Linked DNA regions of Homo sapiens. The protein of the gene in region 2 interacts with the protein of the main gene of each other region in a pairwise test. Each region holds a gene or a part of one and is shown on either strand. Other genes may lie near its edges.

Region 1 (7,019 bases), on a different chromosome or scaffold from region 2:
CCATGCAAATATATGCGTGCACACACAAACACATACACACACACACACACACACACAGGAATGCACTTTGCAGGATTGCAAAGCTAGCTCTTTACCTTCCAAGTATCTGCCTATATAGCACAGGCCAGGAACCCTTCTATGTGGCCATATCATTCTGAGTGTATCCCTACCGGAGTCCTTACTGTGCTGTTTTTTTGTTTTTTTGTTTTTTTTTTTTTTGAGATAGAGTCTTGCTTTCTTGCCCCGGCTGGAGTGCAATGGCGCAATCTCTGCTCACTGCAATCTCTGCCTCCCAGGCTCAAGCAATTCTCCTGCCTCAGCCTCCCGAGTAGCTGGGATTACAGGCGCCCACCACCACACCCGGCTCATTTTTGTATTTTTAGCAGAGGCGGCGTTTCACCATCTTGGCCAGGCTGGCTTCAAACTCCTGACCTCAAATGATCTGCCTGCCTTGGCCTCCCAAACTGCTGGGATTACAAGCGTGAGCCATCGCACCCCACCTACTGTGCTGTAGTTTAACTGCCCACTTGTTTGTATGAATTATCCAACTCCTTGAGGGAAAGGACTATGCTTTATTGGCTATTGCATCTCCAGAACAGTGGCTCACCCATAATATATGCTCAATAATTATTTGTAGAGTAAATGATCAAAGTTCAAATAATCCTAGATCACCATCCTCAACCAGTTATTGGCTTAGTATAGGAATTGTCAACCAAAATCTGGAAGAAACGATACATTCAGCCACTTCTTGCACCATCTAGACCACTGATGGTATCTAAGCTCCAAAGCTAGAGGTGATAATAATACAGCTGTCCTCTACCCCTCATTTGTGCCTATGCATGTGCCAACCATGCAGATCCAGGAGGAGCACTGTAAGCTAGGAAGCTGAGCAAGGAAACAAAAAGCCACAGGGAAGAGAATCAAGAAGCAGCACTACTTCTGACAGGCATTTCAAGGTGTATCAACCCTGAGAATTCACTAGCACCTGAGGTTTTTTAAGAAAACATGGCTTTAATTACAGCCACTGCTGACCGCCATCAAAGTTAGTATTCCCAAGCTCCTTACTGGCTGGTGCCTCTGAAGTTACTTACTCTTTCTAGACCTTAGTTCCCTTATCAGTTAAATAACCATAGCATACAACTCAGTGCTGTTTGAGGAATAACTGAGACTACGTATTGGAAAGCACTTAACACGGTGCCTGACATATGCTGAGTTATGATACAATAAAGGCAAGTTATTAATATTATCACCATTATTAGTGTCAGTCAGGATTGCAAACACAAGTACATATAAAAGCAAGCTACGGTTCACTAGTCAAGCATGCGCTAAAAGGCTTTATCGGGCCTCAACCCCTGAAAATCTGAACACCTAAATTTAACAGGAGGGAACTTAACTTGCCACATCATGGACATAGCAACCTGACAATGAGCAACCTATTTTGGATGTAGCCCCAGGGAAACTTTCTCCTATACTTATGCTAAATATCAGTACCTCTAAGAAATAAAATGACTCAAAACTAATCTAGACCAAAAAAAAAGAAGAAGAAGAAAAATAAATAAATTAAGGCCTGGCACGGTGGCTCACGCCTGTAACGCTAGCACTTTGGGAGGCCAAGGCAGGCAGATCACTTGAGCTCAGGAGTTGGAGACCAGCCTGAGCAACATAACGAAATCCTGTCTCAAAAAAAAAAAAAGAAAAAAAAAATTAGCCAGGCGTTGTGGCACGCACCTGTGGTCCCAGCTACTTGGGGGACTGAAGCAGGAGGATCACTTGAACCCAGGAGGATGAGGCTGCAGTGAGACCAAGATCATGCCACTGTACTCCAGCCTGGGTGACAAAGTGATACCCCGTCTCAAAAAATTTTCTAATTTAAAAGGCACATGTATGTTTAGTGCTATTTTTTTTTTAAACCTGCCCATTTATACCAATTTATCCAAACACAGAAATACACAGACTCTAAAACAACTTTTTGGCTACTTGACTGATAGAAATCATTATTCACCTTAATTAACTGAATGACTGGCTATTCTGAAGGTTGCTAGTAATTCTATTTGCTGGTGTAAGCATTTTTAACATAAACATTTAAGACGGAATGCTAAAAATACCTTAAGGAATATATAATTGTGCTATTTTATACAGCAAAGCTATATTTTACGTGGGGTGCATGCTCTTTCTCTAAATACATACGTCATCTACAATATAACCTCATTAATTCAACATCAATTTCTAATGTGTCGCTCAAATAACTTGCTATTCACCAACAATTATTCTTTAATTTAAAATATATGGTAATTAAAACACTAATGAATTAAAAGCACATTCTCTCTATACTTCAAATTGACCAGGTTTTCTAGTTCTCCGCAAGCACAAAATACATCTTTTCATTATTCCCTTCTAGCTTGCTTCCCTCTTGCTACTAGCTATATGATAAAAATTACAGGCTTTGCTCTTAATTTTTCTTATTTATATTTATTGATTCCTCATTTTATTGGTTATTAAAATTTCCCTTTTTTATTCTTTTCCTTCCAAACACCACCTTTCTTCTACACTATACTTTTAGCACTGGCATAAGGACAGTTCCAGTCGGTCTTCTTGTCCATGGCCTGGAGAATTCAGCCCCCAGGGAAACAGGGCAGCGCTACCTGTATCCGGAGGGCATGATCTTGCTAACCTAGCTCTTACCCTTCCACCACAACCACTCAGCCTGCCTCCCTATTTTTTATCTTTCTATCTTACTGTTACTCTGTTTCACAGTCCCAGGAGATGTCTCATACTCAGCATTTACCACTGTGGTCCCCTCCAACACATACACACCCATTCCCTTACTGAGCAAGCTATATATCATTATGAGACCATCATCTTTGACCCTGACACTGAATCATGTATTTTTCCATAGGATTTGCTGGCAGAAAATGGGATGGGGGAGAAAAAAATCGTTTCCATTTTTAAAAGGTTCCAGAAAGACAATCCTACCTTTCCCAGGATTTGGAGGAAAAGGGCTTCCAAACTCCTGCTGCTTTGGCTTTAAAGTATGTGACCCTGACATGCCTCCAGCCTGGGTGACCTGGAATCGCGGCTTCCCATTGGTGAGCATTTGTCTCCTGGGGCTTAAGGCAGGCAGATGGATGCGGCTCTCAGCCACGTTGTTCTGAGGAGCCATCCCTCCTCCTGAGGGCATCTTGAGATGGAGGTTGTTAGCAAGGCTTGCCATAGTGGGACTCGATGTGCTGCCACAGGGCGAGGGGCCAGGAGTCCCGGAGTGGGCTCGGATGGCAGGAATGTGATGACCACTGACCATCCTAGGCCCCTGTGGGGTTCCCGATGTCCGGTGGAGACTCATGCTGCATGATCTTCCATTCATTCTGAAAAACCTGTGGCCAAGACGGTCAAATATCCAATGTCACTAATGACTCCTTTCAGGCAAAGTCCAATAAGTTATCCATGGTGTGGGTTATAAGCCTGTTTAAAAAAATAAACGCAGGCATTTTTAAAAGCAAAAATGAAAATAAGATACAGTGAGTTTTTCAACCTGTGTATCATTCATAAGGAAGAAAAGCAGCACTCTTAGCAAGATGGCCTTTTATGTAGAAAAGGGTCCTCAAATACACGGCTCATTGGCAGGCACTCTCCCCTTCTGCACTCATGGTGGACATGGATTATGGATCACTGCATTGTTTTGTTTGCCACTGAGCCCTTCTCAATACAGTGCTCTCGGCAACTACAACAATCTACTGGTGCCAGCTTGCAAAACAAAACTTATTTTGTTCCCTAGAGGATCTGTCCATACTAGTTCACTTTTGCTACAGTGGGTCTTGGGAAACCCAAAAGCACCACCTACCTGAGCTGTGAGACCAATGCTTCAAAGTTCCAGTAAACAACCACAAAGCAGACATGGCTTCTAAATGAGACTATGGGGACACTAAACCATCTCTGATTTTCACTTTAAGAGCTATCTTGTCACAGTCCCTAGATTCGAAAAAGATGAACACCTAGGCCTGGGAATACCATAAAATTTTTATATATCCACATATTCATATATTCAAATATTCATGGCAGCATTAGAGTCTTGGTTCCATAATGATCCTGAGTTATGGGGATGGGAAGAGAATCAACAACAGGATACTGCAACCTTCCACTAAAATCCTAGAAAAGAGAAGGGCTGTGCAAAACGCCTTACAGGGAGCATAAGGAGAGAACGTCCCTTCTAAAAGTGACCTGTCCAGTATGTACATGATACATGACATTCAGTAAATCTACCATAGTTCCATAAAGCTTCCTAACATTAAGGAAGCAGAACAAGAACCAAGAGAAGCACTGACATGATCGCAGGACGTCATCACCCACCCACGTGATGATGCCGGGTTGTAAATCACTAAAGAAGGCCCCTCCTTCCCTTGACCAATAGCTCCCCAAAATGTATGCGATGAGGTGGTAAAGTGCCATGGTTGTGCCACTATGCCAAATGTATTATAGACACTGTCACAATCTGTCTTTCAGAGATGACAGTCATGGAAAGAAGCCAAAGTTCAACAAACACAGGAAATAAGGACTGAGTACAAAGCAGGAGTGACCAGATATCCTCAAGTGGATGATTCCTAATTTTTGTGTATGATCCACTCAAAGTGTTGAACAAACATTTTTCAACTCAACTTCCAAATAAAGGACTCCATAAATAATCGAGAAAAGGCTATCAAGGAGAAACACTTTTTGTGAAGAGTTTATTTTTCATTTTTAGAAAATCAAAAATATCTAATTTTAACTCAAGCACTCACTATGCCTTCTGCAAAGTTTGCTGTGTGTGCCTATCTTGAGGAAATTCAAAAGTAATTAACAATATAAAATGTAGAATGTTTTCTTAATTCTTACTAATTCTCTATTTTCACTAAGAATGCCATCAGTTTGTGACATTTAATACTATCATGCCATCTAGTTCCGGAAAACACTCAGCCACATTCCTCTAAGTCAGGTCTCACTCCTGCCCTCTTCTCCCATGAGTACGAAGCAGGAGTGACCAGATAACCTCAGTTCTTACATTGGTAAAATTCCAATGCTTTTTATGGTACATTTATGTAGGAGAACTCCTGTGTGTCACCAGCCAGTCTGTAAATCCATTCATTGGTAGATCATGAGCAACAGTCACTTAATGTCTCTGTACTTTGCCAGATAAAATTGGCCATCTATTTTCCTCTCATTGATAAAATAGTGTTTTCTGAGCACTCTGAACCCTGCAGAAGAAAGCACGTATTCAGCAGCAACCCACCCCCCGCCAAAAAAAGGCAAAAGAAATATGTCACATTGGCAACTTTTTTAAAATAAAGAATTGTTCAACATGACTGGAAATATGAGTCACTAAGACCATGGTCCAAGTGACAAGTGTCTGCAGATTTTCAGACTGTGCCCATTTCCAGGTTTTTAAAAATAAAGGAGTCATTTTTTTTGGCAGCAAGATCATATACGAGCAGGAATTCTCATCAAAAAATCTGGATAAAAACACATAAGGAGGTACTTAGCACGATCATTAAAAAGGTGAGTTTGCAAGAAGGAAAAATAATTAGAGCACTGACAACTTAATTAAGTATCAGGCATTCACATCTGCCTGTCTTGGAATGAATATTTATTTTATTTTATTTTTTTTATAAACTACACTCCCGTTTTAAATAGTTTTAGGTTGAAAGTAAAAACAACAAAAAGTATACTTAAATTTTATTACTAAGAAAGCAACAGCCAGAAAGTAAAGTGATTAATACCATAACGAAAAAACCAATAGGCCAATGGCATGTAAGCTGAGCAAAACCAGCCTCAAGACAAAAATAAAAGAAACTAAACATGAAAATATGGCGAATATTCCAGTTTTCACATTAATTACGCCAACAGATTTCTCAAACATTAGATATTAGAATGTAAAAATAAATTTCATCTATTTATATGATAATATTTTCTATACTTTTTAGCTAGGCCATATGATGAAGATATAATCCTAAGTCTCCTTGGTAACAAAAAAAGGGATAAAATGCTATTATAACTTTTAAGAAAGACCCTCATAGAGTGTGAATGAAATGGCACTCAAAAAGTCAAGATACCCAAGTTCTACTTCTGACAAATCATTTATAACTTTTCTGGACTTACAGTTTTTCATCCATAAAAAGTTCAGGAATTTGGATCTATTCATTACGGCCTCTTGAAATTCTGTAACTCCAGGTAATTTAGAAAAGAAAGACTATCAAGAACACCCATTTGCTATAATCAAGAATAAATATGTAGATTTTATACCTATGGCATTTAAATCTGGACGGTAGACATGGAAGCAAAAAATAATAGCATTCTCTACCACCCCCATCAAAGTGCGAGCTGATAGAAAAAGGCTTGCCCATCAGCGATGTGTTGTCTATGGGCAATACTAACCATGAACAACAAATTTCAACATTGCATTTACACTTTGCCAAAAAGGTAAAATCACAACTAATCACTGTCAAAAACTTAACTGACAGGATTCCATCGGAAGAGCACCTTTCTAGTTAAAAATCCAATCACATTATTCTAGTCAGCATTTTCTCCTCTGTTCTCCATCGAACTACTCTACCCCAGGCTACCAGTAACAAAAACAAAAGAAACAAGAAAAAGAAAAAGCAAGGAACATCCAGAGGTATAAATTAGGATATTTTGGATCTGACATTGTGGCATAGCTAGAGTTTTATACTACATTGGTTCCTACAATGAAAATGTTCATTCTGCTAATATGAGTCAGCATGAAAGTTAATAAATCTTTCCTTTTGACCACTTTCAAACTCTTTGAACACACTTCTGTAAATCAGGTCAGAGAGGAAATTACTTAACCCTAAGGAAACTAAGGCACAAAACCATTTAGTAATTCCACTAGTTTTTCTGAAAATGCGTGACTTTAATCAAAATATAAAATCATGACTCTACCTTCTACCCAAGGCTCCAGGCACTGCTCATCATGGATTAAAAGATTAAACAAACGAAAAGCAATGTTAACTCATCCATTCCAGAAAATTTCA
Region 2 (7,623 bases):
CCTGAAGCTGAGTCCTCCCCCAAAAGAGAGGTCGTCTCTTGAGCTCCTCATGCTCAATGAACAGCTTTTTACTGATTGACAGCATTTCCTCTTGAAGATGATGATGCTCAGACGGGCCTCAGCTCAGCTCCTCCAAAATCGCCCTTTGTTTTCTGCAAGGGCCTTTTTCTCATTATGCATTGAGAAGCCAATTTCAAATACAAAATGATATTCAAGGATTTTCCACTACATTTAGTCTCCAGTAAGGTGTAACTCACACAAGTGCAACCTGATATTGTGTGTGTCAAAGCACAGGATTGAAAGCAATGAAGCACAAACAGCTCATGGGCTGAATGTTAGTTTTCTCCTTAAGTTTTGGTGCCATGCTGACAAGTCTCAAGTCATTCACTTGGTAAAGGGAACTCTTTTCTTGAGTTCATCAGTCCCATCATCAAAATCCAAGCAACCTCAGCACAGAGGTCAGTGACCCAATAACTTGGTGGCCAGGAGGGCACAAAAATAATCAAGTATTCTAGCCTGCATGCCTCAGTTTCCCAAAACACTCACTTCCAACTTCTGAAGAGACACACTGCCTCTTATTAGGACTTTCCTGACACTAGTTCTCTCCCTGTTGTTGGTACTAGCTGGATGACCTTCAAAGTCACACCTGAACTCTCTGGGTTTCAGAAAATAAAGAAGCCTAACATAAGAGATCTTCAAGGACATTTCAACTTTAAAATTTTGACCGTGAAATTTTCAAATAAATCTTCCCAGCATCAGACTTCTGATTTAGTAGTTCTTTGTATTTGCTGACAAGAATAATGGTAACTAAACCTGCTTTTTTTCTTTTAATAAGGTTTATGAAATCACAGCCTAACCCATGCACCAGGTGGGTACAGGAAGATCTCAACTTGCTGGGTAAGTTTCATGCTGAGAACAAAGTGCTGGGAATGTTTATGTTCAAACTTGATCTTCACTCACAACAAAGGCTGCCAACAGATACCACTATCCCTATGTCTACAGGAAGAAGGCTTCAAAATAATAGTTGTAAACCACACTAAAGATCATGTACATCCACGCAGACTCCTAAGAAAGGTGGTTTGAAATGAGTGTCAGTTTCACCCAAAAATGGGTGGAACAGACACACAAAAAGGTATATGTAACTGTGCCCATCCCAGCTAATTACAGCCTCTTGTACTAATTTTCAAGAATAAATATACAACTAATCTCTCGTAAATGTAAACTGCTGCCTGTACACGGTCTCACTGCTGGGCACCGGAGTTTTATCAATATTGTTAAAACAAAAAGTGCATAAAGATGAAGGGAAATAATACAGGTCTTTCTTCTAAAACAATGGGTTACACAGCAGTTTTAATTTGGTGAGTTTTTAAATCTTCAAAATAATTTACCAGCTCTTTGCTGCTTTTATCTTGCCCAGACGGCGTTAACAATTCAGCTTTAAGTATAACATATTTATTTTAAAAACTTTTTATCCTGAAAGCTCAAATTTATAAAAAATTGAAAGAATAGTATAACTAACTCTGATTTTTGAAAATTAACACACTCATTCCAAATTTACATTTTCAAATTTCATGCTCTTGGGGATTAAGAAGTATATATCCTTGCATGTATGTAAATGAGACATACTTCTGCTGTATTCACAAGAGTATCATTAGTCAGTTATTTGTGTACTGGTAACAAATCCTAAGTATTTTAATACCATAACAAGGCAGGAAGCGAATGCCATTATAAATATACACGTATCATTCTCTTTCTCTCCAGTGTGAGGCAATGTGGTAAGGCAATGGCCAACTGTAAGACAGTCTCAGATCTCTAGTCTAGATCTCTAGAAACTGCTGGGGAGAAGCACACCCTGTTTTTTATTTTACAAATCATACTAGGATACGTTCATATTGAAAGCACTTTCAAACAATAATACAATTTTAATTTAAAATACACACACACACATATATATATGAATGTTTTGACACCAGCCTCCAGAGTCATTGGGTGCCTAACATGGGACAGTAGCCAAGATACCCCTCAACCAAGTTGGAGAACTTGAGCGGTAAAATTCCCCCCAAAACCACCATCCAAGCTTGCGAGTGTCCCCCTCGAGTCCGCGGTCAGCAGGGTGCGCCGCGGGTCCCGGGCCCGGAGGCCGAGCGGGCAGCAGGGGCCACGGTGGGCCGGGGCCTCCGGAGCTGACCAGGCCGGCCGCCCCTCTCCCAGCCCTAGAGCGCGAGGCCAGCGCTGGACACCCGGCCTTCCGCCCTGGAGTCGAGCCGTGGACGGCACCGGAGCCACTGCGGGGTCGCTTCCCGGGCCACCGAATCCCGGGGCCTCCTTTCGCCCCGACGCCTGTCAAGGGCGGGTCCGGAGCGGGGACTCGTCCGGGCGCAGCGGGAGTGTGTGGCGGGGCGCGGAGCCGGTGTCCGCCCGCGAGGGGCCTTCGCCGACCCCCGGGCCCCGCCGCCTCGCGTCCCCCCGGCCCAGCCCACTCCCCGCCGCCTGCCGTCGAGGTGGCGCCACCGACCAGGGCGGGCCGCGGGCCCGGCTCACCTTGGGGCCCTCAGAGGGCACGCGCGGGTCGTTCCACGTAGTGGTGCGGCTGTTGTGGTCCACGAAGAAGGGCCAGCCGGTCTGCGGGTCGATCTTGATCTCCCATCCGGGGGGCAAAGGGTCGCGGTCACCGTTGCCGGACGCCACCTGCATCATGGGCGAGTGGGTGGCGGCGCTCATGCTGGGTTGGGGTCTGCCCGCTGGGGCGCGGGTGCGGGGCGCTGGCTCCGGGCGCCGAGTCTCTGGCCGGGCCGCCGCCGTGGGCCCCTCTCCGCCGCCGACGTGTCCGGGAAGCCGGCGCCGGGCACCTTTATGAATTAAAGGCGGGGGTGACGTGGCCAGAGAGGGGTGGAAGTGTCTGGAAATAGCCTCCTCGCTGCCAGAGGGGAAGGAGGAGATAAAGGGAGGTAGCAACTGGCCGGCTAGAAACTTCTGGTCCAGTCCAGAGAAGTTGGCCGCGGCCCGGGGTTGGATGCGGAGCTCCGCCCTGAGTCATCGGCTATAATCGCGGCGGGCGGGGCAGAGGAGCGGGGGCGGGGCCTCGGCCCGCTCGCCCCTCCCCCACCTCCTCCCGCCCCTCCCCCTTCCGACTCGTGCGCGTGCCCGGGCCGGAGTCGCCGCGGGCGGGCGCGGGCGCGGCTTCGGGGTCCGCCTGCGGGTGGGAAGCCGGACGAGCTGGACTGGGGCCGTCCTCCGTGCGCCCCGGGCGGGTTTCGGCTTTCATAGTCGCTCTCTCCCTCTCCTTTGCGCCGAGTGAGTGTTCCCGGGGCCGGAGCCCGTGCTCCCCGTGCCTGCCGCCCGTCCTTCCTGTACAAACAAAACCATCTCGCCCACCTCCACCCCCTCCCCCATATATGATAGCCGAGGACCCTGAGGGCTGTCCGGGAGGAGCGCGGGGACTCTCATCTGACACCGGAAGGAAGCCAGGGAGAAAATGGAAGTCAGTGCAAACTCACCTGCCTTCCTTTGGAAACTTCAAGAAAAAAAGAGATTGTATCAACTGATGGCTTTTAGTCTCCTAGACTAAAAAGAAAGTTTCGTTGCAGCTTTAAAGATAAATCACATTTTCTTGGGTCTGGATCTTTTTTATGGTAGAGATTGGTTCTTGCTATCTTATATCTTGACCCTGATTTGGGAAGTAAAGACCGAATAACCATGACATTTTTTGTTTGGTTTATTCAATTGCACTTGTAACCTGTCAAAGGAGAAAATTACAACACATTTAAAGATCTTTTTTGTTGTTGTTGTTGTTGATTTTCATTTTTTAACTTTTATTGTTAAAGATCTTATTTGTGATTCTAGAAATTGGGCAACATCTCCATTAAATTAGAATAAGTGCTCCCATGAGCTGAGCAGAAGAGGTTGGTTTTATAGACAGAGAAGGGCTGAAGAAAGCAGAAACAAAGAACCAAGACTGGATTGGTTGTTTCAAAATTACTTTCCTTGTAAGGAGGGGACAGAGAGACAGAATCATAGAAAAATAACTGATGAGGGCTTGCCACCATGGCTCATGCCTATAATGCCAGCACTTTGGAAAGTCAAGACTGGAGGACCTCTTGAGTCCAGGAGTTTGAGACCAGCCTGGACAACACAGTAAGACCCCCATCTCTGCATAAACAAAAAATAAGCCAGGTGCAGTGGCTTATGCCTGTAGTCCCAGCTACTCAGGAGGCTGAGGTGGGAGGCTCATTTGAGCCCAGGAGTTTGAAGCTGCCATGAGCTATGATTTTGCTCTTCATGCCAACCTAAGCGACAGAGCAAGACCCTATCTCTTTAAAAGAAAGAGAGAGAAAGAAAGAGAGAAATGATTGAGAGAAATGTAACATCAGGTTACATACTTCAGATTACTGTACAGTTGACCCTTAACATGGGTTTGAATTGAGCAGGTCCACTTGTACATGGATTTTTTTTCAATAAAAGTTACACCGATGTGCTTGCCTCTCCAGTCTCCCCTTCCACCTCCTCCACCTCTTCTGTCTCTGCCACCCCTTGACAGGAGAATCAACCCTTCCTCTTCCTTCCCCTCCTCAGCCTCCACGTGAAGATAATGAGGATGATGACGTTTATGATGATCACGTCCACTAAATGAGTAGTAAGTGTACTACTCTTCCTTATGTAAATGTAAAATCTCTTCCTTATGATTTTCTTAACATGTTCTTTTCTCTAGCTTACTTTATTGCACGAATACATATAATACATATACAACATATGTGTTAATTGACTGTTCATGTTATTGGCAAGGCTTTCCGTCAAGAGTAGGCTATTGGTAGTTTTGGGAGATTCAAAGTATGCAGGGGCGGGGCATGGTGGCTCACGCCTGTAATCCCAGCACTTTGGGAGGCCAAGCGGCGGATCACTTGAGATCAGAAATTTGAGACCAGCCTGGCCAACATGGTGAAACCCCAACTCTACTAAAAATACAAAAATTAGCTGGACGTGTGGCACATGCCTGTAATCCAGCTACTCGGGAGGCCGAGGCAGAACTGCTTGAACCCAGGAGGCGGAGGTTGCAGTGAGCCAAGATCATGCCACTGCACTCCAGCCTGGGCGACAGAGCCAGACTCCAGTTCAAAAACAAACAAACAAAAAAGTATGCAGGGATTTTCTTTTTTCCTTTCTTTTCTTATTTTATTTATTTTATTTATTTATTTTTTTGAGACAGGTTCTTGCTCTCTCTCCCAGACTGGAGTGCAGTGGGGCAATCTCAGCTCACTGTAACCTCTGCCTCCTGGGTTCAAGCGATTGTCCTGCCTCAGCCTCTTGAGTAGCTGGGATTACAGGTGTGCACCACCATGCCTGGCTAATTTTTGTATTTTTAGTAGAGACAGGGTTTTGCCATGTTGGCCAGGCTGGTCTCAAACTCCTGGTCTCAAGTGATCCACTCGTCTCCGTCTCCCAAAGTGCTGGGATTACAAGCATGAGCCACCTCGCCCAGCTTTGCAGGGATTTTCGACTGCACGGAGTTGGTGCCCCCAGCCACCTCCTGTCACTCCCCAACCCTCACCCCTCATTCGAAAGTAGCCTGTTTGGGAAATTAGACTATCACCTCTCCTGATTTCTCAGAAAGTCAGATAACAACTTGGTTTTGGTTTGGTGATGTGGAACTTTAGCATGAGTGACTCCTTTCTGATTTTTCGTCGGGTTTGTTAAGGCCAAATGCAGGAGCTTAGTCCAAAACAGTGACCTCTTATAACTTTTATTTAACAAACGTCAATGAGCACCCCAATTCCCCTGGGAAAGAGAGACTGTGTTCCAGAAAGAGAGAATGTTTGGGAGGTGACATTTTAGATCTTTAGACATACTGACTCATTCCCTTCCCCAGAAACGCTTTGAACTAATATTGGGCCTAGTTTTCAATTCGGAATCAGAGAATATCCTCGAACCCCAGTCAATACCTCTGCCCCTTCCTGCCCTCAGCTTACTCCTTCTGGAGAAAATGCCAGAGAGGCCTGCCTATCATTTCCAATGGAATGATTCTCACTTGTAAAAGTATGCTTATCCGCTTTGGAGTCCAGTAACTCCAGTGATGATCAGGCCCCAGGGACTGATGCAGGTCACCAAACATGTTAGAGACAGGTGTATAAACCCGAATGTCAGTGCACTAGTTTCCCATAGGAAATATTACTGTTGAAGGAACTAGACCCCCAAATTCACTAGTCAGTGTCTGCCTTATGCTTCCTTATGTCTGCAGCCCTGAACCCAGAGTCCATATTCAATAAATGTTGATGTTTATCGAAGATTGAATCCAGAGTGAAATTTTATTTCTATCTTCTTCCTTGCTCAATTTGCTTTCCACTACAGTTTAAGTAACTACAGTTTAAATAAACACAGAGGCTGGGTGTGGTGGTTCATGCCTGTAATCCCAGCACTTTGGGAGGCAGAGGTGGGGGGGATCACTTGAGGTCAGGAGTTTGAGACCAGCCTGGCCAACATAGTGAAACCCCGTCTCTACTAAAAATACAAAAATTAGTCGGGCATGATGGTGGGTGCCTGTAATCCCAGGTACTTGGGAGGCTGAGGCAGGAGAATCGCTGGAACCCGGGGAGCGGAGTTTGCAGTGAGCTGAGATCACGCCACTGCACTTCAGCCTGCGCAACAGAGGAAGACTCTGTCTCAATAAACAAACAAATACTGAAAGTGGTGTTGGCCATTTTTCCCCTGAAAGAAGCAGCAGGGAGGAAGCAGGTTACTCTGGGATTAACATAGCTGCTTCTGACAGTTGCTCTGGAGGCTAAAGCAGCTCCATCCTGGATGCTCATCTGCCATGTTCGTTTCTGATGAACCCGTTCCAGGAATGCCTCTAAGATTTCTATTTTCACATACTTACCCTTCGGTCAAAATAACGTTGGTGTTACTGTAAACACATACTTACTATAAATCCTGCCTGTGGCGAATTCCCTGTGGTATACAAGCCCTGGGACTTCAGGGTAACAGTGCAGGGACCCGCCATCTTGTCTTGCAGCCATCCAGGACATGGCTTGTGTTTGTAAGTCCCTATTAAGTGTTTCTCTCTGAGAAACTGGATTTGTCCACCTCTTTCTTCAGCTTCTCAGTTTCCTCAGCCTTTGAGGGTAGGTGTGCATAGACCTGCTCACCGCAGAAGAGTTATCCTCCGCTAGGGACTTCCGCAGGGTTTGTCTAAAACAGAGACACAAGTCTTGGAGAGCTGGCTGGAAGAAGCTGCTTTGAGCCACGTTGAATACTGAGCATCATGTCTGTCCTCGGTGGCTTTTTCTTTTCTCCAGGCCCTCAGACACTCCCTCTTTAGGCCTCCTGGAGTTCATCTGCCCAGATCAGAAGCTTAAGCATAACCCTAAATTTCTTTTGCCCCTCACCATTTAATTATCCTTTTTTTTTGAGACTTGCTCTGTCACCCAGGCTGGAGTGCAGTGGCGTGATCTCGGCTCACTGCAACTTCCGCCTCCCTGGCTCAGGCGATTCTCCTGCCTCAGCCTACCGAGTAGCTGGGATTATAGGCACCCGCCACCATGCCCAGCTAATTTTTGTATTTTTAGTAGAGACAGGGTTTCACCATGTTGGCCAGGCTGGTCTTGAACTCTTGACCTCAGGTGATCCTCCTGC
Region 3 (7,720 bases), on a different chromosome or scaffold from region 2:
ACAAAAAACCAAACCTATAGGAAAGAGAAAAGCAGCCTTCTGGGCTCAGAAATCTGAGTAGAAAGATGTTCTGAGCCTGGAGAAAGAAATTCATAAAAGCCTGACTCTCTCTCCAGAAAAGAGTACATTTCTGCATTTAATTTTGGGAGGTTGGTCACCATTCTTTTCCTCGCTTCTAAATAAATGCTTATATAGCATTTATATTCCAGTCACTTTACAAATATTGTCATTTAATTCTCATGCAAACCAACGAGGTAGGAACTATTGTTATCCCCATTTTACAGATGGGGAAACTGAAGTACAAAGAGCTGAAGTAACTTTTCCAAAATAGATGTGGTTTTGAACCCAAGAAATGTGATACAACTATGACATGAGGCAGTCCCAATGCATTGAATCCTTATGACTGCAATGCAAGGGAGGTATAATTAACTGCATTTTATAGATGCAGAAACTGAGGCTTGAGGCTATTTGGTGTTTCTGGTGTAGATCTAGGAGCCAAACTCCAGCCTACCTAGACTCTTTGCCTCTGCTGTACCCCTGGACCATGTGTTAGGAATTCTTGGTACAGGGTGGTAGTGCTCAATATGGTAGTGGTTTTAGTCTGTTTTCTGTTGCTTATAACAGAATGTCTGAAACTGAACAATTTTGAAAGAAAAGGAATTTATTCCTTACAGCTATGGAGGATAGGAAGTCCAAGATTGAGGGGGCACTTCTGGTGAGGGCCTTATTCCTGGTCTCTGAAGTGTCTGGAGGTGGCACAGGGTATAGCGTGGAGAGGGGACTGGGCATGCTGACATGCTATGCTTTGGTCTCTCTTCCTCTTCTTATAAAGCCACCAGTTCTCCTCCTGTGAAAACCCACAAATCCATTAATCCATGAGTGGGTTAGTCCATTCATAAGGGCAGAGGCTTCATGATCCAATCACTTCTTAAAAGTCCCAACCGCTCAGTACTGCCACATTGGGGGATTAAGTTTCCAGCACATGACATTTGGGGGACACATTTAAACCATAGCAGTAGCCATTTGCCACATGTGGTTATTGAGCACTTCAAGTATGGCTAATGTGGCTAGTGTGACTGAGAATTTTTTATTTTATTGAATATTTTAATTTTTTTTTTTTTTTTTGAGATGGAGTCTCACTCTGTCGCCCAGGTCAGAGTGCAGTGTCATGATCTCGGCTCACTGCAACCTCCGCCTCCCGGGGTCAAGTGATTCTCCTGCCTCAACATCCCGAGTAGCTGGGATTACAGGTGTGTGCCACCATGCCCGGCAAATTTTTGTATTTTTAGTAGAGACAGGGTTTCACTGTGTTAGCCAGGACGATCTTGATCTTCTGACCTCATGATCCACCCACCTCCGCCTCCCAAAGTGCTGGGATTACAGGCATGAGCCACTGCGCCCAGCCTCACATTATATTTCTATTGGAACACAGAATGGTCTAGAGAATTGGGATTTGACAAACCCAGCTGTGACAAGTCACCAAAATTTGGGGGCCATACCCAGGGTGCCGTTCCTGTCACGATACCCATAGGTCCATGTGGAGGCTGCAGGGATACAAAGCTCGTGAAATATCCCAGGATGGCATGGGCACTGGAGTCAGCTGCCCCAAGTTCAAATCTGAAATCAGTCTTTTTGTTTTTTTTTTTTTTTTGAGATGCAGTTTCACTCTTGTTGCCCAAGCTGGAATGCAGTGGCGCAATTGGCTCACTGCAACCTCCGCCTCCTGGGTTCAAGCGATTCTCCTGTCTCAGCCTCCCGAGTAGCTGGGATTACAGGTACATGCCATCACGCCCGGCTAAATTTTTGTATTCTTAGCAGAAACCGGGTTTCACCACCTTAGCCAGGCTGGTCTCCATCTCCTGACTTCAGGTGATCCGCCTGCCTCAGCCTCCCAAAGTGTTGGGATTACAGGCGTGAGCCACCGCGCCCAGCCTGAAATCAGTCTTATACGACCAGCTGGGTGGTCTTGGGTAGGTCCCTTACCTTAACTCTTCTTGTCTGCAGAATGGAGGTGACTTACTGTTTTTCTCTGTCTCCCTTTCACATCTTTGCACTCTTCACCCCTTCTCTTCCCTCAGCTTTTAGTTTAAACATCACCTTTCTGATAAGCCCTGCTGAAAATGGCCACCCTCAGTCATGACGGAGAACAAGTCTTTCCTATTTTATTCAAGAAAATGCATGATGCAATCTATTTTAAATGATCATGGTTTTAATTTTATTTTCCTGATAATGGTCTATCTCTCCACTGATTTATAAGATTTGTAAGAGCAGGGGTGGATCATTCTGGTCACTGCTGAGTCCCCAGCATTTAGAACAGGGGCTGACACAGCACAAAACAACGTTAGTTGGGAATGTACAAGCAAACCCAGCACACCTTCAGAGGGGTGCTCAGGAAACAGCCCTCCCACCTTTCTTCACCCCTCACAGCTGTGGGATCTTCCTAACCATTTCGGTGTCCCAGGATAGAGGATGAGTTTATTCACCCCTCCCCAGCAGGGGAGTTGCCAGGATTAAATGAGATCCCAGAATGCCCTGGTATACCCTGAAGGCTCTGGGACACAGGTGAGCTGGTCCCCAGGGATTTGGAAACAGGAAAACAAATATGACTCCACCCTGCCTCCCATCCAGCCTCTGCCTAGAGGAGTTATTTTATTTTATTTTACTTTTTTTTTTTTTTTGAGACGGAGTCTTGCTCTGTCGCCCAGGCTGGAGTGCAATGGCGCAATCTCAGCTCATTGCAACTCCTGCCTCCTGGGTTCAAGCGATTCTCCTGCCTCAGCCTCCCGAGTAGCTGGGACTACAGGTGTGTTTTTTGTATTTTTAGTAATTTTTTGTACTTTTAGTAGAAACGGGTTTCACCGTGTTAGCCAGGATGGTCTTGATCTCCCGACCTCGTGATCCACCTGCCTCAGCCTCCCAAAGTGCTGGGATTACAGGCATAAGCCACCACGCCCAGCCTCTAGAGGAGTTATTTTACTTACTTACTTATTTATTTATTACACAGGATCTCACTCTGTCACCCAACCTGGAGTGCAGTGGCACAATCACGTTTCACTGTAACCTGAACTCCTGGGCTCAAGTGATCCTCCTACCTCAGCTTCCTAAGTAGCTGGGACCACAAGCTCGTACCACCATGCCCGCTATCTTTTTCTCTTTGTAAAGACAGGGTCTTACTATGTCATCCAGGCTGTTCTCAAACTCCTGGCCTCAAGCAATCCTCCCGTCTTGGCCTCCCAAAGTGCTAGGATTACAGACATGAGCCAGCTCACCCAGCTGAGGAGTTATTTTTTGACACTGGTGAATTCAGATCAAAAGGGATTTCTAAGAAAGGTGCTGGACCCAGGCCGGGCGCGGTGGCTCATGCCTGTAATCTCAGCACTTTGGGAGGCCGAGGCAGGTGGATTATCTGAGGTCAGGAGTTCGAGACCAGCCTGACCAACATGGAGAAACCCTGTCTCTACTAAAAATACAAAATTAGCCAGGCATAGTAGCGCATGCCTGTAATCCCAGCTACTTGGGAGGCTGAGGCAGGAGAATCGCTTGAACCCGGGAGGTGGAGGTTGCAGTGAGCCGAGATCGTGCCATCGCACTCAATCCTGGGCAACGAGTGAAACTCTGCCTCAAAAAAAGAAAAAAAAAGAAAGGTGCTGGACGCCTAGGACGCAGAGGGGTGTTTCACCCCAAATCAAGTAGCACCAAGCCCTCCCAGGCCTTGGGTGCAAGCATATTAAAGGCCTCTTTCCCTCTCTGTCTCCATTGTTTACACTCCACTGAGCATCCGCAATGTGCCACACACTGTTCTAAGCGTCTTACACATATTAAATTATTTAATCCTCACAACAACTTTATGAAGTGAGCGCAATTATGAGCCCATTTTATGGAGCAGGAAGTTGAGGCAGGGTTTTAGGTAGCTTTTCTGGGGTAGCACTGTGGGTTGGAGCGGAGGTGGAGTGCACTCTTAGGCCAGCTGGCTCTAGGGGCTCTTCACCACTAGGCCGCACTGCCTCTAGCAAAGGGACGCGGGGAAGCTCAGCAGACCTTAGGCCTCCCAAGGGCGCCACGGTGGTTCCTTTGAGCCCAGAGTCAGCTCTTAAGTCCATAGGCCTTCCTGAAGCTTCTGAACCACTTGCCCATAGCTGGGCCTCAGGCTGGCTCTCAGTAGAATGTGGAGAATGGAGATTCCCGCATGTCCACTTCTCCTAAAGGTTTTATAAGGCAGTGCTGGGAATGTGCTTTATAAAAAAGGGGAAGCACCCCGACAACAGTCACTGTTTGCTCTTTTAAGCACCATCCTGAGAAGGAGGAATGTTCTTCCCATTTCATAGGTGGGGAAACCGAGGCTCAGAAGAGCAAATTTTTGGCCGGGCGCGGTGGCTCACGCCTGTAATCCCAGCACTTTGGGAGGCCGAGGCGGGTGGATCACGAGGTCAGGAGATCGAGACCATCCTGGCTAACAAGGTGAAACCCCGTCTCTACTAAAAATACAAAAAATTAGCCGGGCGTGGTGCGGGCGCCTGTAGTCCCAGCTACTCGGGAGGCTGAGGCAGGAGAATGGCGTGAACCCGGGAGGCGGAGCTTGCAGTGAGCCGAGATCGCGCCACCGCCCTCCAGCCTGGGCGACAGAGCAAGACTCTGTCTCAAAAAAAAAAAAAAAAAGAGCAAATTTTTTTTCCAAGGTGATAGGGAGAGTCCGTGGCTGATGTCTGCACTGACCAGACGCCCCTAGGGGGCCAGCGAGGGCGGGTCCCAGGTGCAGCGGATGCAGAGGAGAGAGGCCCGGGCGCGGCGCGGGGGATGGTGCGATCCCGGGCCCGAGGGCATCAGACGGCGGCTGATTAGCTCCGGTTTGCATCACCCGGACCGGGGGATTAGCTCCGGTTTGCATCACCCGGACCGGGGGATTAGCTCCGGTTTGCATCACCCGGACCGGGGGCCGGGCGCGCACGAGACTCGCAGCGGAAGTGGAGGCGGCTCCGCGCGCGTCCGCTGCTAGGACCCGGGCAGGGCTGGAGCTGGGCTGGGATCCCGAGCTCGGCAGCAGCGCAGCGGGCCGGCCCACCTGCTGGTGCCCTGGAGGCTCTGAGCCCCGGCGGCGCCCGGGCCCACGCGGAACGACGGGGCGAGGTACTCGGCGGGGTGCGGCCTGCGGACTCGCCCGGAGGCCGGGGGGCGGGAGGGGGCGGCCGGGGAAGGGGGCGCCGGAAGCCTCTGGGCGTCTGCGTGTTGCCGCGTGTTACACGCACGCACGCCCCTTACACACCTTTTCACAGACCCCGCCGTCGGGGCGCGGCCAGGTCAGATCCCTTTTGATCCGGGCCTGGGCTGAGTGCTCCCCCCGGGCTTCAGGTGACGCGGCCCCGCGGAGCGTGGGGTCGCCCGAGTTGGGCTGGGGAAGCCAGGGACGGAGGTGTCCGGCCGTCACCCCTAGAGGAGGGCGTGCGGGGGTCTGTTTTGCGTGAGTGCGGGATAGGGGAGTCGTGTGGTGCGGTGAGGGGCTTGTGGGGGGCACTGGAGGACTCTGGGGGTGGCGGGGGATCCGAGGGGGTCCTCGTGAACCCGCAGGGGAGAGTCCTGGGTGAGGGTGGGTCCCGAGCACCTGTGTCTCAGGAGATGGTGAGAGCTGTCTGGAGGGCTGGGCACTTGGTGGCAGGGGTTGGCGGTGCAGGGGACACCGCCGGGACAGGGCTGGGGTGCCCTGGAGCGGGGGAGCCGAGGGAGTGGGAGCGGGGGCGCAGCGCGCGATCTCTGGCCCGGCAGGGCCGCTGGTTCTCCCCAGTGCGCGGCTCCGGGTTTGCAGGTGGACGGTGCGCGCGTGTCTGCGGTGTGTGCTGTGCCTGCAGACCGGGGAGGGCGGGGGACGACAGCCACCTCCTTCCCTCTGCCTCACCCCCCTCCTGTCCCAGGGCCGCGCTTCAATTTCCGCTGAAACTTCTGACTCGGACACCCGCCGCCTTTCGCTTGGGCTCCCACGGGAGGGGCCTGGCTGCGGGGGGCGGGGCGGGGTGGGGGTGCGGCCTTGCTCGGGTAGACCATGGGTGTGACAGCTGGGAGGGCTGTGTGTGTGTGTGTGTGTGTGTGTGTGCGTGCGCGCGCGCGCTTGCGCTTGATGTAACCCGCCCTCATTTCCCTGGGTCCCGAGTGTGGCAGGGAACAGCAAGAGGTAGATATTAGGGGCTGCTTTCATTCCACATCACAGATTCTATTCTGCAGTGTGGTCTGCAAAATGCCTTGCCCAAGATGTATAGACTCAGTTACCGCATCTGTCCCCATCTGGGTGGAGCTTATCCCAGGCCCCAACAGGCTCTGAGGGATGGCCGGGGCCAAGGCAGCCTGGACTACTGATGTGGCACAGGCCAGAGGGACTCCAGGCAGTCTCCTGCTGCACAGGGCACAAAGCATGTGCACAGCCAGGTATCATCCTGCGTGACTCAGAACAGCCTTGAGATGTAAGGAGTGTCATCCCAGCCTCGAACCTGGGGAGCTTTCTAAGACTCCCAAGGATGGTACTTATGCATCTTGCTGTGAAGAATAACAGGATGAGTGCTAATAATGACCATTTCCTGACACCTACCTGGCAACAGGTCCATAAGCTCTACATGCTTCATTTGTGTTTTCATTTCATCATCACGAAAAACCTGTAAGCTTTGCATCCTGTTCCCACTTTACAGGAACTGAGGCTCAGAAAGCTTGAGGAACTTGACCAGGGGTACCCCCCAGCTAGAAAGGGTTTGAGACAGGATTAGAACCCAGGAATATCTGACTACAGCCACTCCTTACTGCATTCTTACCAAGCCAAAGTCATGACCTTTCACTCATGTGGGGAGGCCTTCCCTTCCAAGGCAGCTCTTCCATTTGGGAGCAGCGTACTTGGAGAGGTGGGCCTCTGTCTGGTAACTGACTCATGTTGCCTTGTTAATCCTGCCTTGAACTGTTGGGAAGGTCTTTAACCAGGCTGAGGTCTCTCGCACCAATGCCCATACCTGGGCATGCACCTCCTTGGAATGGAGTTTAAGTGGGTGGGCAGATGGGTTCTAGAGAGAACCCGTCTGCCCTGACCATGCCCTACTGCCCTCTCCTTCAGCCACCACACACACAGTCACACAGCTGCGTGAATGGTGGCTTTCCTTTCACTTAACAGTTCACTCTGGAGATCCTTCCAATTACCCTATAAAGAGCATCCTCAACCTTTTAAATGGCTGCACATTGTTCCGTTGTGTGGATGAAGTATAATTTATGTAACCAGCCCTGTAATTATAGACAGCCAATTATTTCTGTCAAAAGGGCTGCAGGAATAACTGTGTATTTGCATGCTTACACACACACACCTCTACAGAATAAATTCTTAGCAATGGGATTAATTGCTGAATCAAAGCTCACACGCTTTTCATCGTTGTTTTTGTTTTGTTTTGTTTTGCTTTGTTTTGAGACAGTCTCACTTTGTTGCACAGGCTAGAGTTCCTGACCATGGCTCACTGAAGCCTTTACCTTCTGGGCTCAAGTGATTCCCCTACTTCAACCTCCTGCATGGCTGGGACTACAGCTGTGTGCCATCATGACCAGATAATTTTTTTTTTCTTAGGGACAGGGTCTCGCTACGTTGCCTAGGCTGGTCTTGAACTCCTGGGCTCAAGTGATCTTCCTGCTTCAGCCTCCCAAAGTACTGGGATTACAGGCATGAAGCACTGCACCCAGCCTGTTTTTCATTTTGATATTGTCAAAA
Region 4 (7,860 bases), on a different chromosome or scaffold from region 2:
GCACAAAGGCATTTTTCACTTTGTTCTGTGCCTCGTTCTGTGTCCAGCCCGGGGTTGGGGGACTGTGGACACACAGAGGGTCAAACCCAGCCCCTGTCCTTGAGGAGTTCGCAGACTGGGGCCAGTCTGGGGTCAGGGAGTGGGGATACCCACAGATAGACAGTTCTGTTCTAAGGAGATCACTGTAAGGCGCCGTGAAAACCGAGGAGGGAGCCTCTAATCCAGCTTGACGCTACTGCAGGAGCAGGGGTGGGGGCCAGAGGAAAAGCCAGAGAAGGCTCCTCAGAGAGGGGCCCATCTGAGATGGGTCGTGATGAACAAATAGAAGTTTAAACCATGTAGTCGGGAATGGGAAGGACCTTCAGGCAGAGGGAAGAGCATGGACAAACAAGGGAAGGATGAAAAGGTCCTGGTTTCTTGAGAGAAGTGTTCCCCGTGGCAAGCCCAGTAAGCCACTTCCTTCACCCTGCCCCAGGACCAGGGGCCCAGGATCACTCACTCTGTCTCCACAGCCAGCCGCCCCTCACCAGGGCCATTTCTTCAAAAGGACTTTCCAGAGCGGAGTCAGGCGGGACCTGTCAGAGGAGCCACGGGAGACACAGGCCTCAGCAGCAGCTCCCTGGAGAGAAGCCCCCAGCCCTGCCGTCCCTGGGGAGCCACCCAGGAAACGTTTGAGGGAGGGTTAGTAAACAAGGGCCAGGCGGCCTCGGCCTCCTCCCCATTCTCTGCTCAGGAAGAGAATGGGAGCACTGTCACTGTGGGGTCAGCAGGGCAGCCATTGGTGTGGGGTGGGGGTGGGGACCAGGAGCCTGGATTCCAGCCTCAGCTTGGTAACTTTGGCCATATCCCTCCTCCCTGGCCCTCTGTCCTGGTCTCAGTTTCTAGATCTGTAGAAGTGTGTCTGTGAGGCAGGCAGAGGCTGGAGGGAGGAGCTCTTGAAACATTAGAATATGCCTGACTAGCTCAGTCGGTGGAGCATGAGACTCTTAAAGTATTAGAAACCTTGGGATTCTGTAATGTGGAAGTGCAGAATATTAGAATCACGGCAATGGATGAGGGAAAAGCTCCCTCCTATTTGGACCCCACTAGAGCTGTTTACAAAGTGCTTCAAAGAGCAGTTCAACAGCAGCTGTGATGGACCGAGCACTCTGTCCGGGTACCCCCTATCAGTGCTTTCATCCATTATCTCATTTAAGCCTCCCTGCAGTCCTTATTATTCCTATTTCAGAGATGGGGAAACGGGGGCCGGAAAGGTCCAGTCAGTTGCACGGGGCCACTTGATTAGTAAGCAATGGAGCCCAGACTCACACCCAGCAGTCCTGGCTTCAAACCGTTATGCCGGCAGGAGCTTTGAGAACTTCCGATACCAGGCCACACTCCGTAACAATTAAATCAGAATGTCTGAGGGCAGGAGGCAAGCCCTGATACTCTTCAAAGATCCTCAGATGATTCCAATGTACAGCTAAGTTTGGACGTCACCGCACATTCTACTCCCTCACCTTGTCCCCACTCTAACCCTGTTAGGAAGGGAATCCTTACTCCTGTTTTACAGATGGACAAACTGAGGGTTAGCAAATGACTCATCCATGTACATGATGTAGCTTGCACTGGAATCCAGGTAGGTGCCCTCTGTTCCTGAGGGCGACTCACTTGCCAGCGGGTGCCTCCGCCCCTCCCCCACCTGCTCACACCTGTTGCTGCGTAACAAGGGCTGGCACACCTGGGCTGGAAGGCCCAGCCTTGTCTGTTCCTCTTGCCGCTCCCTCCCCTCTCCACGGTCTTGACACAGATCAGACAAGAGGGTCAGGTGCAGACTCCTTTTCCAGCCCCTCCCCTTGATGCACCCACCTTGTCTACACTTGTTGCGGATGTTGCTGCCTAAGCGGCCGCTACTCGATGCTGCTGCCACCCAACCCGCTGCGCCTGCGCTTTGTGTGCCCCGGAGAGCCTGGGGCATTTCTCTCCTCCCGCAGCGCCTGAGAGCCCAGCTGCCCCCGGGCCCCGCCCTCCGGACCTGCCCACCCCAGGGAGGGGGAGTGACGTGAAGAGATGCTGACCCGAGGCGTACTGGGACTTGTAGTCTACCCCTGTAGAGCTGGGCAGAAGCAGCCCCGCCTGCAATTTTACTTTTCTATTAAGACATTTGTTCACTCATTTATCATGAAATACTTTTTCTTAAGAATCATTGAACTCAGTTCCTAGAAAAAAAGAAAAAGTAAAGTTGCAAGGAGAAGCCAAGCTCCTAGTTTTGCATGTTTTTTTGATGCTTCCCCTTTCCATCCCCAGCTTCCAGTCTAGTGAGGGAGATTACATGGAAACACACAATTGGAGCACAAGGTGTGATTTAACAATGGAAAAGATGAGCCTGACTTTTCTCAAGGGGTTCAGGAAGGCTTCCCAGAGGAGGCTGAAAGGGGCCTTGGAGGATGAGGGGCAGTTTCCTAGGCGACCCGAAATTTCCCCTATGAATACTGTCAGGATGTTGAAGAGTGCCCAGCATTTCCGTGTGTCTAGAACATAAAGCGCAGGGGTGGGGAGGGCATCGGGAGTGTCAGGCGATAGAGCTGCAGGGTTTGGAAAGAAATAGCACAGAGGCCTTGCATGACAGGCGGAGAGCTTGGATGTTAGGACGCAGTGACTGGAGCTGGGGGTGGGAGTTTCAAGATGAGGAGTGAGGTGTGTGATTAGGGGGTCGGAAAGGCCCCTCTAGGGCACAGTGAAGAATGGACTGGCGGGAGCCCACCTGGAGAAAGGAAGACTTTCTGTATCTATCACCTCGGACTGTGATCATTTCCTTCAATAGCTCAGCCCCGCAAACCCTCACCTACCAGCAGCCACAGGATGTCATTCAGAGACCAGAGGATGTCAGGGCCTAAAAGACTTCTGTCCCGTCCCCTATGTGGCAAGGGTGCCCACCCTGCCCTGGGCCCTTCCTCCTGTCCCAGAGAACTCTTCCTTACCGGGGCTGCAGGGCTCATGGTTCCTGGGTGGCCAGGGCAGCATTTCCCAGAAGGCTCCCGCAGCGGGGCATTTCCCTGAGCGCCTTAGAGATAAGGGGATCAGGAAGGTGCTACCAAGTGGGAGGCTGGAGGGGGAGGCAAGGAGGGAGCGCACAGATCCCAAGGAAGGTCGCCCTCTTTCTCCAGGCTCCTCCCAGCCTTTCCAACTGATGGCTCTGACCCTAGGTTCACTAGACAAGTCATCCCTGATTCAGAAGTGGTCTTGGCTCAGCATCGCCGAGGTTCCCGGAGTGGAATCGGGGCGAGGTTGCGGGGGCAGGACAGGAACCGGGCTGGTCCTCCTCCCTAGGTTGGGGGCGGGGCTACATCTTCATTCTTTGGCCTGGCAGGACAGCGCCCATCACCCCAGTCCTGGCTGCGCAGTCTGGCTCTTTAAGCCTTCCTCTCTTGCTCCTGAGTCTCTGTAATCCTGACCTCGAGCTACCCTCGCTCCTCGGCCCTTTGTGCGGTGCGTGCCCTGCTGAGGGATTCGCCATGGCCAATCCTATTAACCATTGAGTTCATCCCCTCTTAGCCGACTCAAGAACCAGCTCTCCCATACCGCGTTTTCATCTCTGTGCCTTTAACTCACTCTCTGTCTGGTTCCTGGAACGTCCCAGTCCCAGCTTCTCCTAGCTAAATTTTCCACCTCCACAGTGGAAGGAAGAAAGGAAGCAGTGGGAGGGGGAAAGAGGCAAGGAAAGAGATATGGAAGGAAGGAAAGACAGAAGGAGAAAAGAAGGGAGGGGAAAGACGGGAAGGCAGGTAGGTAGGGCTGCAGCTGGCCTCGGAGGATCTGCGCCTGGGTCCTGCCCCGACCCAGCCTCTCTCCAGCTCTCCCTGCTCCCCTCCCCGATGGGCAGTGGGGCATCCTTCATGTTGAGGGGCGGGGACGGTGCAATCATCTCCTAGATTTCATTCTCTGGATTTAGCAACCAGATGAAAAAGGAAGGTTCTCCAGCAGCAGTGGAGACTTCAGGGGAAGACTCTCCCCTACCTCCCAAAGAGCGGGCACTATGACGAAAAAAAGAGGAAAGGACGTGGCAAACTAAAACCACAGACACTACTACCGAATCTAAACGTAGCCGGACTTGGCCCATGTCTCTAAAAGCTGGTCAGTGACCCTCTTTGAGAAGCCAATAAGGAAGTGTAGACTGTCCTCAGGAAAAAATCTGCGTATAATTCCTGGGAGTTCATAGACCTCTGAAGCCATGATAGTCATGGTTGGATTGTTTTTAATTTCCAGAGCTGTGTAGATGGGAGGAGAGTGTAGATTGACGAGTGAGAGGTATGACAGTATGTCAGGAATTCCAGCCGCAGCAGTCCTGGCTGTGAGAGACTTTGTTTGTTCAATCAACTAAAACTTATTGAGACTAATAAGCCAACAAGTAACTTTTACATTTCTTTGTGGCTATGGTGCACAGAACCATTGGCAGAGAGGAAAAGATTTTGCCATTTCAAGTGTCCCTGGTGAATGAACAGCCCACAGATAATACATTGTTTAGGAAATAGTGGACTGGCTCATCAAATTCAAATTTACTACTTACATTTTCTAGAGAGTATAATATAATGAGAATAATTTATATTATCTTTATTTTAAAAAACTTGAAGTTTATATCAAGATGCAATTTGAGCAAAAGTAAAAGTGCTTATGAAAACATTTTAAATGGCCGGGCGCTGTGGCTCATGCCTGTAATCCCAGCACTTTGGGAGGCCAAGGCGGGCAGATCACCTGAGATCGGGAGTTCGAGACCAGCCTGACCAATATGGAGAAACCCCATCTCTACTAAAAATACAAAATTAGCTGGGTGTGGTGGCACATGCCTGTAATCCCAGCTACTAGGGAGGCTGAGGCGGGAGAATTGCTTGAACCGGGAGGCAGAGATTGTGGTGAGCCGAGATTTCACCACTGCACTCCAACCTGGACAACAAGAGCTAAACTCCGTCTCAAAAAAAAAAAAAAAAAAAAAGAAAAGAAAACACTTTAAAGTGATAATTTTACGCTTTTTTTTGTCTTTTTTTTTTTTTCCTTTTTCTGGAGAACGGGGTCTCGCCATATTGCCCAGGCAGGTCTCGAACTCCTGGGCTCAAGCTATCCTCCCGCCTCTTGCCTCCCTGAGAGCGGGATTACAGGCGTGAGCCACTGCGCCCGGCCAAAGTGATAATTTTAGTGAGATGTAATTCACCTACCATAAAATTCACCCTTTTAAAGTAAAAAATTCAGTGGGTATTTTTTTTTTTTTTTTTGATGGAGTCTTGCCCTGTCACCAGGCTGGAGTGCAGTGGTGTGATCTCGGCTCACTGCAACCTCCGCCTCACAGGTTCAAGTGATTCTCCTGCCTCAGCCTCCCGAGTAGCTAGGACTACAAGCGTGCACCACCATGCCCAGCTAATTTTTGTATTTTTAGAGATGGAGTTTCACCATGTTGGCCAGGATGGTCTCGATCTCTTGAGCTCGTGATCTGCCCGCCTCGGCCTCCCAAAGTGCTGGGATTACAGGTGTGAGCCACCGCACCTGGCCTTCAGAACATTTTTATCACCCTAAAAAGAAACCCTAGGCCAGACATGGTAGTTCACGCCTGTAATTCCAGCACTTTGGGAGGCCAAGGGTGGCGGATCACCTGAGGTCAGGAGTTCGAGACCAGCCTGTCCAACATGGTGAGACCCTGTCTCTACTAAAAATGCAAAAATTAGCTGGGCGTGGTGGCGCGCACCTGTAATCCCAGCTACTCAGGAGGCTGAGGCAGGAGAATCACTTGAACCCGAGAAGCAGAGGTTACAGTGAGCCGAGATCACACCATTGCACTCCAGCCTGGCTACAGAGCGAGTCTCCATCTCAAAAAAAAAAAAAAAAAGAAAAGAAAAGAAACCCTATAGTCTTTAGCAGTTACTCCCAATCTGTCTTCCCCCCAAGTCCCTGGCAAAATTAATCTGCTTTCTTTCTGTACAGATTTGCCTATTCTGGCCATTTCATATAAATGGAATCATGGGCCAGGCGCAGTTGGCTCACACCTATAATCCCAGTGATTTGGGAGGTGAAGGCAGGAGGATCTCTTGAGGCCAGGAGTTTGAGGTTATAGTGAGCTGTTACTGCACTGCTGTACTCCAGACTCAGTGACAGAGTGAGACCTTGTTTCTAAATAAATAAATAGTTTTAAAAAATAAATGGAATCATGCAATGTGTGACCCTTTGTGACTGGCTTCTTTCACTTAGCATAATGTTTTCAAAGTTTATCCAGGTTGTAGCATGTTATCAGTATTTCATTCCTTGTTTTTTGTTTTTGTTTTTGTTTTTGTTTTCAGACAAGGTCTTACTCTGTCACCCAGGCTGGAGTGCAATGGTGCGATCTCACTGTAGCCTCAACCTCTCTGGCTCAAGCAATCCTCCCACCTCAGCCTCCCAAGTAGCTGGGACTACAGGCACATGCTATCACACCTGGCTAATTTTTGTATTTTTGGCAGAGACCGAGTCTCGCTATGTTGCCCAGGCTTGTCTCCATCTCCTAGGCTCAAGCAGCCCTCCTTCCTCAGCTTCCCAAACTGCTAGGATTACAGGCCTGAGCCACTGCGCCTGGCCCATTCCTTCTTACTGATGAATAATATTCTATTTTATGGATATATCGTGTTTTATTTATCTATTCATTGGTTGATAGATATTTGGGTGATTTCTACTCTTTAGCTATTATAATACTGCTGTGAACATTTGTGTACACATTTTTGTGTGGACATATATATGCTTTATTTTCTCTTGGGTGTGAAATTTCTGGGTCATGTGGTAACTCTACGTTTAACATTCTGAGGAACTGTCAAATTATTTTCAAAGTGATTGCACCATTTTACACGCCCATCAACAACCTCTAAGAGTTCCGATATTTCTATGTCCTAGCCAACACTTGTTATTGTCTGTCTTAAGTATTCACTCCTTGTGTTTTTTATTTGCATTACCCTAATGACGAATGATGTTGGTTATCTTGTTTTTTTTTTTTTTGAGACGGAGTCTCGCTCTGTTCAGCCCAGGCTGAAGTGCAGTGGTGCGATCTCAGCTCACTGCAAGCTCCGCCTCCTGGGTTCACGCCATTCTCCTGCCTCAGCCTCCTGAGTAGTTGGGACTACAGGCGCCCGCCATCGCGCCCGGCTAATTTTTTGTATTTTTTAATAGAGATGGGGTTTCACCATGTTAGCCAGGATGGTCTCGAACTCCTAACCTTGTGATCCGCCCACCTCGGCCTCCCAAAGTGCTGGGATTACAGGCGTGAGCCACCGCGCCTGGCAATGTTGGTTATCTTTTCATGTGCTTATTAGACATTTGTATACCTTCTTTGGGGAAATGTTTATTCTAATCTTTTGTCCATTTTTTAATTGGGTTATTTGGCTTTTGTTGTTGAGATGTAAAAAGTTTTTAAAACTAATAAAATATTTTTCTAATTTTTTTTAAGGCTAGGGCGTGGTGGTATGCACCTGTGGTCCCAGCTACGAAGGAGGCTGAGGTGGTAGGATCGCTTGAGCTCAGGAGATGGAATGCACCACTGCACTCCAGCCAGGAAGTGTAATGGTTAGTTTTATGTGTCAACCTGGCTAGGCTATAGTCCCCAGTTACTCAATCTAACACACTAATCTAGGTGTTGCTGTAAAAATATTGTGTAGATTTGGTTGACCTATACAATCATTTGAAGTTAAGTAAAGGAAATTATCTTTGATAATTGGTGGGCCTCACCAATCAGTTGAAGGGTCTAACAAGCAAAACAGGTTTCCCTGAGAAGGAAGAAATTCTGCCTGTGGATTGAACTGTAGCCTCAGCCCCAGCCTGAGAGTTTCCAGCTTGCTCTGCAGATTTTAGACTTGCCAGCCCCCTCAATCATAT

Evidence for each region.
Region 1: the proteins of BAG3 (region 2) and GLIS3 interact in binary tests that used the Homo sapiens proteins (3 or more experiments, as listed by UniProt).
Region 3: the proteins of BAG3 (region 2) and TRIB3 interact in binary tests that used the Homo sapiens proteins (3 or more experiments, as listed by UniProt).
Region 4: the proteins of BAG3 (region 2) and PLEKHB1 interact in binary tests that used the Homo sapiens proteins (3 or more experiments, as listed by UniProt).

Annotation. Positions count from the first base shown.
Region 1 is NC_000009.12:4,283,065-4,290,083, forward strand, and holds part of GLIS3 (zinc finger protein GLIS3), read right to left. Parts: intron 3,460-7,019; 5' UTR 3,362-3,459; coding exon 2,974-3,361; intron 1-2,973. UniProt on the Homo sapiens protein: Acts both as a repressor and an activator of transcription. Binds to the consensus sequence 5'-GACCACCCAC-3'.
Region 2 is NC_000010.11:119,646,774-119,654,396, reverse strand, and holds the start of BAG3 (BAG family molecular chaperone regulator 3), read right to left. Parts: upstream 3,018-7,623; 5' UTR 2,722-3,017; coding exon 2,542-2,721; intron 1-2,541. UniProt on the Homo sapiens protein: Co-chaperone and adapter protein that connects different classes of molecular chaperones including heat shock proteins 70 (HSP70s), e.g. HSPA1A/HSP70 or HSPA8/HSC70, and small heat shock proteins (sHSPs), e.g. HSPB8.
Region 3 is NC_000020.11:376,046-383,765, forward strand, and holds the start of TRIB3 (tribbles homolog 3), read left to right. Parts: upstream 1-4,714; 5' UTR 4,715-5,124; intron 5,125-5,249; exon of another isoform or gene 5,250-5,455; intron 5,456-6,387; exon of another isoform or gene 6,388-6,500; coding exon of another isoform or gene 6,501-6,581; intron 6,582-7,720. UniProt on the Homo sapiens protein: Inactive protein kinase which acts as a regulator of the integrated stress response (ISR), a process for adaptation to various stress. Inhibits the transcriptional activity of DDIT3/CHOP and is involved in DDIT3/CHOP-dependent cell death during ER stress.
Region 4 is NC_000011.10:73,641,727-73,649,586, reverse strand, and holds the start of PLEKHB1 (pleckstrin homology domain-containing family B member 1), read right to left. Parts: upstream 3,007-7,860; 5' UTR 2,979-3,006; coding exon 2,961-2,978; intron 1,934-2,960; exon of another isoform or gene 1,849-1,933; intron 1,385-1,848; exon of another isoform or gene 1,309-1,384; intron 675-1,308; exon of another isoform or gene 576-674; coding exon 500-575; intron 1-499.